3 linked regions of the Homo sapiens genome follow. The protein of the gene in region 1 interacts with the protein of each later gene in a pairwise test. Each region holds a gene or a part of one and is shown in the gene's direction. Other genes may lie near its edges.

Region 1 (3,653 bases):
TAACTGTGAGATGATGTATATTTTAATTTTTTTTATGACTAGATGTTTCTTTTTTTTAATTATTATGCTTTAAGTTTTAGGGTACATGTGCACAACGTGCAGGTTTGTTACATATGTATACATGTGCCATGATGGTGTGCTGCACCCATTAACTCGTCATTTAGCATTAGGTATATCTCCTAATGCTATCCCTCCCCCCTCCCCCTACCCCACAACAGTCCCCAGTGTGTGGTGTTCCCCTTCCTGTGTCCATATGTTTTCATTGTTCAATTCCCACCTATGAGTGAGAACATGTGGTGTTTGGTTTTTTGTCCTTGCGATAGTTTGCTGAGAATGATGGTTTCCAGCTTCATCCATGTCCCTACAAAGGACATGAACTCATCATTTTTTATGGCTGCATAGTATTCCGTGGTGTATATGTGCCACATTTTCTTAATCCAGTCTATCATTGATGGATATTTGGGTTGGTTCCAAGTCTTTGCTATTGTGAGTAGTGCCACAATAAACATACGTGTGCATGTGTCTTTATAGCAGCATTATTTGTAGTCCTTTGGGTATATACCCAGTAATGGGATGGCTGGGTCAAATGGTATTTCTAGTTCTAGATCCCTGAGGAATTGCCACACTGACTTCCACAGTGGTTGAACTAGTTTACAGTCCCACCAACAGTGTAAAAGTGTTCCTATTTCTCCACATCCTCTCCAGCACCTGTTGTTTCCTGACTTTTTAATGATTGCCATTCTAACTGGTGTGAGATGGTATCTCACTGTGGTTTTGATTTGCATTTCTCTGATGGCCAGTGATGATAAGCATGTTTTCATATTTTAATTTGCTTCACTCTAGTAACCTTTTTACTGTCTATTCATATCCCACAACATCATGTTATATCCCTTAAATATATACAATGAAATTTATTTTAAATACATAAAAGTGAGATTTTTAAGTGTTTATTAATTCATTTTAAAATATCACTAATAAATCCATTACATGTTAACATAAAGAATGTATGGATCACTATACTTTACCTCTTTCTTCCTCCCGGATCTTGAAGTTCTGCCTTAATTTGTAAAACTTCCTTTGTATAGCATATCTGATACATATCTTTAATTGGCATACATTTTCATTTTTAGTATTTTTTAACTTGCTTTACTGCCTATGCTTAACAAGGCAATCTTTTTTACTTTTATCTTCACATTTTAAACACAATTGAACAAAAGAAATGTTATTAACACACTTTTACAAGAAATTTCTTTTTCCTCAGAATGTCAGAGTAAGTTCAGAAACTGAATATTGATTTTCCTTTTTAAGTTATGCAACAATGACATGAAAACCTTTATATTTTCCATGTGGTAGGAAAAAGGATATAGGTACAATTTTAATCTCATAAATACATGCGCACATGTATATGTGTTTGTGTATTTATAATCTATTAGTTACAATAGTCTGAAAGGGAACAATAACATGTTAATATGATATTTTGAGTCACGCGCTTACAGGTCATTTTTATTTTTTTCTACTTTTTGGTATTTTCCAGATTTTCTTCAGTGAAGTTTTAATGAATCTATTATTAGGATTAAGTTAATTGATTTAAGATGTGTCTTCCACATTCTGAAACACCTTAATGAAAGGCAGTGGTTTTTCTTTTTTGGAAAGAAATAGTGATTTTTACTCTTTTACTTTTAGCTTAGCCCTTGTATTTTACCAACCGAAATGTCAGTTTGTAGATGTAACATTTGTAGTCATCTGAAAGTCTGGCAACATATCTTAGTGGTTAAGTGTCTAGGATCTGGAGTCAAAAGACCCATGTTCAAATCCTGATATCTGTTTGCTAGCAAGTAAATGTCTTAAGTTCTCTTAAGCCTCAATCTCTTTATAAATGAAATGTACAAATTGTTTATTTAAATGAAGTAATAATAGTACCTCATAGCATTGTATAGCTTAAATGAAATTACTCATGCAGAGCTAAAACTTAGTTCAATATCTGGCACATGGTAAACATGCCATAAATGTTAGTGCTTTTTTTTTTTTTTTTTCCTGACTCTGGAAATCTAGGACCTCTCCCTTCTTCCTTCAAACCTAACAAAACATTGTTGTGAACTACAGGATTTTTTGAAATCAAGGGTAAATGTAATCCAAGCAAGACTTTGATATTCAACACCCATTACCTGTCCATAGGAGTTTCCTGCTGGTTGTATTGGTTTCTATGCCCTGTAACACCATATGTGTGGCTGGGCCTGTCTCTACAACCCAGTGTGGTCTGCAGTGTGGTTTCCCAACTGTGGTCTATAAGATGACTTTAGATGACACAAAGACAACCCTTTAAATTTTTTAAATCTATTTTTATGGGTGAGCAAAAAACACAACTAGCACATTAAGTCAGTGATTACATGAATATTTTTTAGAGTAAGGTAAAAATGAGTATTGAGGAAAAATGCAAATCACTGTAAAGAAAAATATTAGGTTATAGTACTCTAAAGTATGGCAAAAATTGCAAAGATGGTACTTGAATGGCTGAAGTTTAGGTTTCTGCTCTAGAGGCTCCTTCCCATATCTGTGTCCAGGGTGCTCATACACTGTCCCAGAAGCTCAGTAGTACATGTGAAACCTGTCTTTTACCTAAACCCTTGTCATCTACGATATGCCTTGGGATCTCACCTTTTATTATGTTTTCTTCCTTCCTTTCTTTCTTTTTTTAAAATTAAATGGGCTCCATATATTTCTAAACAAAGAAATAGGAAATCTACCATCCTCCTAAGGCAATTAGCTCAACAGCAGCTAGCTTTTTCTTTTTTTAAAGTTTGGAAAAATATACTGTTATATCTACAGTCTTTAAATACATAGATTATTGACCATTACTACCTTCCTGAATTCAAACCCTGTGTTTCAATTAAATATAATATTGTTTAGTATTAAATAAAACAACTGTGTACTGTTTTATTTAATAATACTCATTGAGTCCACCAATGTCAATTATTTTTGTTGTATTAGGACTTATTGAACCTACACATATATTGGATTAAATGTTTTTGTCACCAAGTTAATTTTTAAATGTAAATTAGAACCTAAAATTTTGATGCTTGAGCAGGTACTTAAATTTGCTGTATTCACTACGATGGAAATTTTTTTGCTGTGATAAATAGAGTTGTCTTTACAAATATTGCATGAAAGCATATTAGTATAAGTAAGTGTACAGTTTGTGCATAATTCCTTACTCAGTGGGAGGCATAAATTCCATTCCCAATTCATAAAAATTGAACAAGTAGTATTTATTCCAAAAAAAGGGAGTAGTTTTACAGTGATTTATTGAGGAGATAAACATATCTGATTACAAAGAATTTATTTAATAAGCTAATAGCTTTATTTTATATTACTAAAGATGTATACTTTTTTAAAAAATCTTTATTTCAACTATTTCTAAATAAAGGTTTATTCAGTGATTGTCCTGAAATTAAACTAGCTCATTAATTACTCTTCCTGTCTTTGCATACACACACACACACACACACACACACACACACGCACTCACATACACACAAATAGGCATAACTTTTGATTTTTTAAATCCTTGGGAGACCTTACATGAAGTTGATCGACCTAAGAGTAGGAATAGAAAGTTATTTTTTTTGTTGCAGATATGCCTGTAGTATATATGC
Region 2 (3,646 bases), on another chromosome or scaffold:
TGCACAATAAATTTTTTTTCTTGGATTGCACCAAATCACTGCTTGGAAAAACTCATTTTTTTATTTACTTTTTGTTTTTCTTTCTTTTTTTTTTTTGATTTTGTTTTTGAGACAGTCTCTTGTCGCCCAGGCTGTAGTGCAGTGGTGCAATCTCGGCTCACTGCAACCTCTGCCTCTCGGGTTCAAGCAATTCTCCTGCCTCAGCATCCCAAATAGCTGGGATTACAGGTGCTTGCCACAACGCCTGGCTAATTTTTATATTTTGTTATAGATGGTGTTTCACCATGTTGGCCAGGCTGGTCTCAAACTCCTGACCTCAAGCGATCTGCATGCCTCAGCCTCCCAAAGTGCTGGGATTACAGGTGTGAACCACCACGCCTGGCCTGGAAAAACTCTTATTTTATTATGAAACAGTAAGAATTTAGTTTGGATAAGAACATGGTAAGGAGAGGATGGGAAGCATTTTGTAGTATCATTTGCAGCTGGGTAACATTGCTTCTGGTAAAAATAAGGAAAAACAAGTGAGCATCTGGCTCTGAAATCAGTCTGTGTTCCCATTCTAAATTATAGAAGTACAAGATTGGTGAGTAGCAACCACTGGTTTAGAGATCGTGCGTGCAGGCCAGGTGAATCTTTTATGTATAACAAGGGTGGGTTGAGTCAAATAGAGTCAGGTATAAGTGGAAACAGTTTCATTACCTTTGGTAGGGAGGCCATAACTAATAATTTTTAATGACCAGTCGTGAGCTGCGATTTTAATGGGATTAAACTTGAATATCTCCAAATATGTATTAATTACATTCAATTAATCATTATGTGCTAGCCATTATTTTAAAGACTACATGTATTAAGTCACTCTCTTACCAATAGTGAAGTAGGCACTATTACTGGCTCTATTTTATTGATGGGGACACAAGTGTAGGGAGATTAAAGGCCTTGCCTAAAGCCAGGCACTCTACCCCAGGTCCTACACGCCTCACCCATCTGCCAGGTGCCTGGGCTTTCTACTCTCCTACTCACAATTAGTCCCAGCCTCATTCTGGCATCAGGTGGCAGGTATATGACTGTGGGCAGATGGTTGGTTACGATTATGATAATTCATTATTACGACATCTGGGTGATTGTTTTTTAAATTTTGCTGATCTCATCTTGTAGGCCTTAGAAATTAAAGTGCTGTACAAGTCTGCCTCAGTTTATGAAATAGTTGGATCAGAGAGGTTGTAAACAAATTGAATAGAAAGTGAAGTTCAAATGGCCAGAATGCCTTTTTTTTTTTTTAATTTTTTTTTGAGATGGAGTCTCGCTCTGTCACCCAGGCCGGAGTGCAGTGGCTCGATCTCGGCTCACTGCAACCTCAGCCTCCAGAGTTGCTAGGATTACAGGCGTGAGCCACCACACCCAGCTAATTTTTGTATTTTTAGTAGAGACGAGGTTTCACCATGTTGGCCAGGCTGGTCTCAAACTCCTGACCTCAGGTGATCCACCCGCCTTGACCTCCCAAAGTGCTGGGATTATAGGCATGAGCCACCGGGCCTGGCCCAGAATGCCTCTTAAATTTTGCAGTCAGGCCGGGTGCAGTGGCTCACACCTGTAATCCCAGCACTTTGGGAGGCTGAAGCGAGGATCGCTTGTGCCCAGGAGTTCGAAACCAGCCTGGGCAATGTGGCAAAACCCCGTCTCTACAGAAAATTAGCTGGGCTTGGTGGCGCATACCTGTAGTCCCAGCTACTGGGGAAGCTGAGGTGACAGAATCATCTGAGCCCGGGATGTTGAGGCTGCAGTGGGCCGAGATCAAATCACCACACTCCACCAGCCTGGGCAACAGAGACTGTCTCAAAAAAAATAATAATAATTTTATAGTCAATCTTTTAAAGCAGGTAGTGTCATCCAGTATTTTTAAAAATCTAAAAAGCAAAAAAGGGATCTTAAGAAAACATCTAGTCCAAGTTGCTCATTTTACAGATGAGGAAGTAGAACCCTGGAGAGGGACAGTGACTTAGCCTTTGTGTTTCTTATCAATTCAATCCTATTCAAACCACATTCCCATCCAGAAAAGTGCTTAGAAGGAAGCGAAGGGCATTGCTATGAATTTCAATTTCAAATTAAGTACAAATTTGGATATCCTTTGGTCAATAAATTGGTTATCTAGCCAAAGCCTTTCTGAAATTAATAATATGCTAACAGGATATTTGTTTCTGGATGTTTGCTTAAAGTGCTCTTGCAGCAGTGGGGCTTCTATTTCACAATAGCGAGGCTTTATCTTTTGATTAAAAATTAACAGGAAAAATATTCTTGGATTTTCCATTGTAAGTAAGATAAATTCTTACCCTGGAGTTGCCTTTATTAATCATAATATCAAGACTTATTTGTCTTTGAAGGCCTGTGTGTCAGGGCAGCGCCACATCTAGGAGGTTAAATGTGACAAACGTTTAGTAGTCCACATAGAGCCAAGAGCACTAGGCTTTGGGCTCCTATAAAAGCCCAAGATGGGAAGCCTTAAACTCTGCTTCTTTTCTCTGCCTGTAGCCAGGTCAGCATGGATCCGCATCCTTTTTATTTGACAAGGTAATTACAAGCGTGGGGCCCAAGCTAGAACTGAGACGCTAAAACCCTGCATAACCAAGAAGCTACTAGGTAGTTTGTAGTTTGGGGCAGAGTTTGTTCTTCCACTAAAATCCTGTCTCCTAAAATAAACCAAAAATTAGAATTAGGGGAGTTAAGGAACTTGTTTGTCATATTGGAATTAAAGTGTCCAAAATTACATCGCCACAGAGGTTAGATTTACTTCCCCTTTCACTCCCACCCCCACCCCGCAAAAAGAAGAGGGAAATTCAATTCATTTCTGCATTTGAGGGAATCTGGCCTTTGGAGGAGTTTGGTGTGTAGTTGCCATTACAAAAGGGAAAGTGTCAGGATGGTTTTCATGTGTATTTGTTTTTTTAAACAAAGAATGATATTGTTGACAGAAATGTCACATTTGTTCATTCAGCGAACACCCTGAGTGCCTACCAAGTGCCAGATACTTATTGTTGCTCCTGACAGTGGCCAACACACCTGGATGTGTTATCTTGGAATTATGAACAGATTCTGGGTAACACAAAGAAGGGGCTGGAAGAGTTGAGAAAATTTCAGAGAAGGGAACATTTGAGTTAGGGATAGTAAGTTTTTATTAAATGACCACCTAGGCTGTGTCACAAAAGCCAGCTGGACATGCCATCTGCTGCCGGGGTAGTGGGGGGTGGCTAATTAATGACAGGCTCCTCCAGTGTATTTTCAAATGAGCTAGCGCCGAGCCTGTTGAGGGCAAGTGGCTGTAATTCATCATGATCGTTTTCTTTTTCAGTTTAGAAACCTGCTGAAGTGGTATGCTAAGGAGTTCAAAGACCCACTGCTACAGGAGCCCCCAGCCTGGTTTAAGTCCTTTCTGTTTTGCGAGCTTGTGTTTCAGCTGCCTTTCTTTCCCATTGCAACGTATGCCTTCCTCAAAGGTTGGTAAATGGTGGGAAAATCCCATTTTTACTCAGAAATCAGGTCCCAGAAATCTTTTGGGAAAGTATCTCCAAAGGGAAGGGGATGGTCCCCATAGTTTGTGGGAGAATGCTACAGGATCTGGGGTAAATAGCCAGGGTAGATCTTGTAAAGGGAC
Region 3 (3,653 bases), on another chromosome or scaffold:
GTTGACATAGCACATGTCTCAGGGAGCACAGGGTTGGGGGTAAGATTACAGATTAAAATGGAGTCTCTTATGTCTACTTTCTACACAGACACATTAACAATCTGATTTCTCTTTCTTATCCCCACACCAGGCTGGAGTGCAGTGGTGTGATCTCGGCTCACTGCAAGCTCTGCCTCCCAGGGGTTCACGCCATTCTCCTGCCTCAGCCTGCCTAGTGGCTAGGACTACAAGTGCCCACCACTACACCTGGCTAAGTTTTTGTATTTTTAGTAGAGACGGGGTTTCACCGTGTTAGCCAGGATGGTCTTGATCTCCTGATCTCATGATCTGCCCGCGTTGGCCTCCCAAAGTGCTGGGATTACAGGCGTGAGCCACCATGCCCGGCCTCCATGCTGGGTTAATTTTTAAATGTTTCGTAGAGATGGGGTCTTGCTTTGTTGCCCAGGCCGTTCTCAAACTCCTGGGCTCAAGCGATCCTCCTGCCTTGGCCTCCCGAGTAGCTGGGACTACAAGTGAGAGTCACCATGCTCAGCAAGAGCTCATTTAGTCCAACCCAGGGGAGGGTAGAAGTTAGCGCCTCAGCCAGGACTCTGCATCCTACAAAACAGATGAAGTCCGGGGTCCCTCCAAGGGTCCTGTGAGAAACTGAGACATTACTGTTGATATAATTATGAATTCTTATTTTATTTATTTATTTTGAGACAGTCTCACTCTTATTGCACAGGCTGGAGTGCAGTGGCGCGATTTCGGCTCACTGCAACCTCCACCTCCTAGGATCAAGTGATTCTCCTGCCTCAGCCTCCCAAGTAGCTGGGATTACAGGCGCATGCCACCATGCCAGGCTAATTTTGTATTTTTAGTAGAGATGGGGTTTCACCATGTTGGTCAGGCCGGTCTTGAACTCCTGACCTCATGTGATCCTCTGGCCTCGGCCTCCCAAAGTGCTGGAATTACAGGTGTGAGCCACCATGCCCAGCCATGTATTCTTCTCAGAGACAGAAGTGTATAAACCTTGGGCTCCTCTCAAAAAGCAGTTTGGTCCCTGGTTTCAGGTGTCTTCTCTTAATTAAATGGGGACTCTAATAGCATCTACTTCAGAAAGCTGTTACGAGGGTTAGTCCTCATAATTAATATTTGTAAACTCTTGGAGCCTGGCACAGAGTCAGTGTCCTGCCTACCTCCTAATAACTCCACCAGTTAGATGGTGATGACCCCTCTTGCAGAAGAGGAAATCGAGGCTCACAGAAGCCAAGTGACTGGCCTGGGCCACACAGGCAGCAGTAAGCAGAAGCAGGATTTCAAACCAGTTTTCCTGGACTCCTGTTGGGGTCTGGGCTCTACAGCCAACTCACGGTGTGGGCAGTCCCTCAGCCTTCTTGAGCCTTGGTTTCTTCACATATAAAATAGGGATGCTAGACTTGCAGTGTGCTGAGATCTGGGAGGTGATGAGGTCAGGCAGGGCCTGCTCTGTACTTAAAACTCTGTGAGGTCTGGGCGCGGTGGCTCACGCCTGTAATCCCAGCACTTTGGGAGGCCGGGGAGGGCGGATCACCAGGTCAGGAGATCGAGACCATCGTGGCTAACATGTTGAAACCCTGTCTGTACTAAAAATACAAAAAATTAGCCAGGTGTGGTGGTGGGCGCCTGTAGTCCCAGCTATTCGGGAGGCTGAGGCAGGAGAGTGGTGTGAACCCGGGAGGCGGAGCTTGCAGCTCACTGAGATCGCGCCACTGCACTCCAGCCTGGGTGACAGAGTGAGACTCTGTCTCAAAAAAAAAAAAAAGAACTCTGTGAATAGGCCAGGCGCAGTGGTGTGTGCCTGTAATCCCAGTGACTCGGGAAGCTGAGGTGTGAGGATTGCTTGAGTTCTAGACTTGTTTGAGTAACACAGCGAGACCCCGTCTCTATTAGAAATTTTTTAGGCTGGGCATGGTAGCTCACGCCTGTAATCCCAGCACTTTGGGAGGCCGAGGTGAGAGGATCACTAGGGGTCAGGAGATCGACACCAGCCTGGCCAACAGGGCGAAACCCTGCCTCTACTGAAATACAAAAGTTAGGGGCGCTGTGGCTCTCGCCTGTAATCTCAGCACTTTGGGAGGCCGAGGCGGGTGGATCGCTTGAGCCCAGAAGTTCAAGACCAGCCTGAGCAGCATGGGGAAACCCCATCTCTACAAAAAATACAAAAATTAGCCGGGTGTGGTGGTGTGCACCCGTAGGCCCAGCTACTTGAAGGGCTGAGGCAGAAGGATCTCTTGAACCTGGGAGGTCGAGGAAGCTTCACTGAGCTGAGATTGCGCCACTGCACTCCAGCCTGGGTGACAAAGTGAGACCCTGTCTCATAAATAATAAACAAGAAAGAAAATACAAAAATTAGCCGGGAGTGATGGTGCACACCTGTAATCCCAGTTACTTGGGAGGCTGAGGCAAGAGAATCACTCAAGCCTGGGAGGCGGACGTTGCAGTGAACTGAGATTGTGCCACTGCACACCAGCCTGGGTGACAGAGCAAGAGTCTGTCTCAAAAAGAAGGAACTCAGTGGAGTGGTCCTTGTTGTCACCTTCTGATTCACTGGAGTCCAGCACCAGAGTGTGGCAAGATACCTTGTTCCCACACAGCCCCTTGCCATGCCCCCAGAGATGTGTGCATTTCCCAGGGAGGCCACTTCTGCCTTTTCCATTTCCTTGAGGCTCCTGGGAGGTCCTGTGCCTCCACCCCTGGGGCGCCTCCTCCATCACCCCACCCTCCTGCTTCCTTTCTTGCTTAGGCTGTGAAGTGTGTGAGCTCCACAGGCTCAGGTGGGTGGGGTGAGAGGGGAGGGTGCTCGTCCTGGACTTGCCGGCACAGGGTCTCCTGGGGGCTCCCTCTTGGCCAGCTCTGGGCCAGAGATGCGTTTTGCAGTTGCCATTTGCGCATGGATTCTCAGCCCCACCAGCCTGAGTCTTCCTGAGGGCGGTGCCCCATCTTCCTGGCTCTGCGCCCACACAGTAGCGCCTGCCATGCAGTTCTTGCCCAGTCTGAGGCAGGAATAGCTGGAGGCCATTGTCACCTGATCGCTTGGCCCTTTTGCCAGCATCCTGTTTTGAGGGGCAGCAGGAATGGGGGTGGGGGCCTTGTGTACGCTGGAGACCAAAAGTGGGAAGGGAGGAGCCCAGCTCTCCACAGTGGGTTCTGGGCCTGGGGGCCACAGCAGGGGGTTCATACAGGGCTCAGGGGAGAGAGGAGGCTTGCTAGCTCCCACCTGGCGTTGGCTGATCCTCTGAGGGGCTGCGTTGGAGGGGTTGGCATTCTGGAACACCCTGCTGTCTGTCCTGCAGGTCCAGAAAGTCCCTGTGGGTGTGTTTGTCCCGGGGCAGGTGTGGGCTCCCTCAGATCTTTCCACACTGTTCTTTGGAAACCCTCACTGAAGTCTTTCCCTCCTCCAGCTCTGCTGTAGCTGCCACTGAGAAGAAGGCGGTGACTCCAGCTCCTCCCATAAAGAGGTGGGAGCTGTCCTCGGACCAGCCTTACCTGTGACACTGCACCCTCACGGCCACCCGACTACTTTGCCTCCTTGGATTTCCTCCAGGGAGAATGTGACCTAATTTATGACAAATACGTAGAGCTCAGGTATCACTTCTAGTTTTACTTTAAAAAATAAAAAAATAGAGACAGAG

What was found.
Region 2: the proteins of NDUFAF2 (region 1) and TMEM97 interact in binary tests that used the Homo sapiens proteins (3 or more experiments, as listed by UniProt).
Region 3: the proteins of NDUFAF2 (region 1) and NDUFA7 interact in binary tests that used the Homo sapiens proteins (3 or more experiments, as listed by UniProt).

The regions. Positions count from the first base shown.
Region 1 is NC_000005.10:61,067,111-61,070,763, forward strand, and holds part of NDUFAF2 (NADH dehydrogenase [ubiquinone] 1 alpha subcomplex assembly factor 2), read left to right. Parts: intron 1-3,653. UniProt on the Homo sapiens protein: Acts as a molecular chaperone for mitochondrial complex I assembly. Complex I functions in the transfer of electrons from NADH to the respiratory chain. The immediate electron acceptor for the enzyme is believed to be ubiquinone.
Region 2 is NC_000017.11:28,322,160-28,325,805, forward strand, and holds part of TMEM97 (sigma intracellular receptor 2), read left to right. Parts: intron 1-3,343; coding exon 3,344-3,488; intron 3,489-3,646. UniProt on the Homo sapiens protein: Sigma-2 receptor which contributes to ameliorate dysfunctional cellular processes and slow degenerative progression by regulating cell functions including cholesterol biosynthesis/trafficking, membrane trafficking, autophagy, lipid membrane-bound protein trafficking, and receptor stabilization at the cell surface.
Region 3 is NC_000019.10:8,311,365-8,315,017, reverse strand, and holds part of NDUFA7 (NADH dehydrogenase [ubiquinone] 1 alpha subcomplex subunit 7), read left to right. Parts: intron 1-3,422; coding exon 3,423-3,513; 3' UTR 3,514-3,653. UniProt on the Homo sapiens protein: Accessory subunit of the mitochondrial membrane respiratory chain NADH dehydrogenase (Complex I), that is believed not to be involved in catalysis. Complex I functions in the transfer of electrons from NADH to the respiratory chain.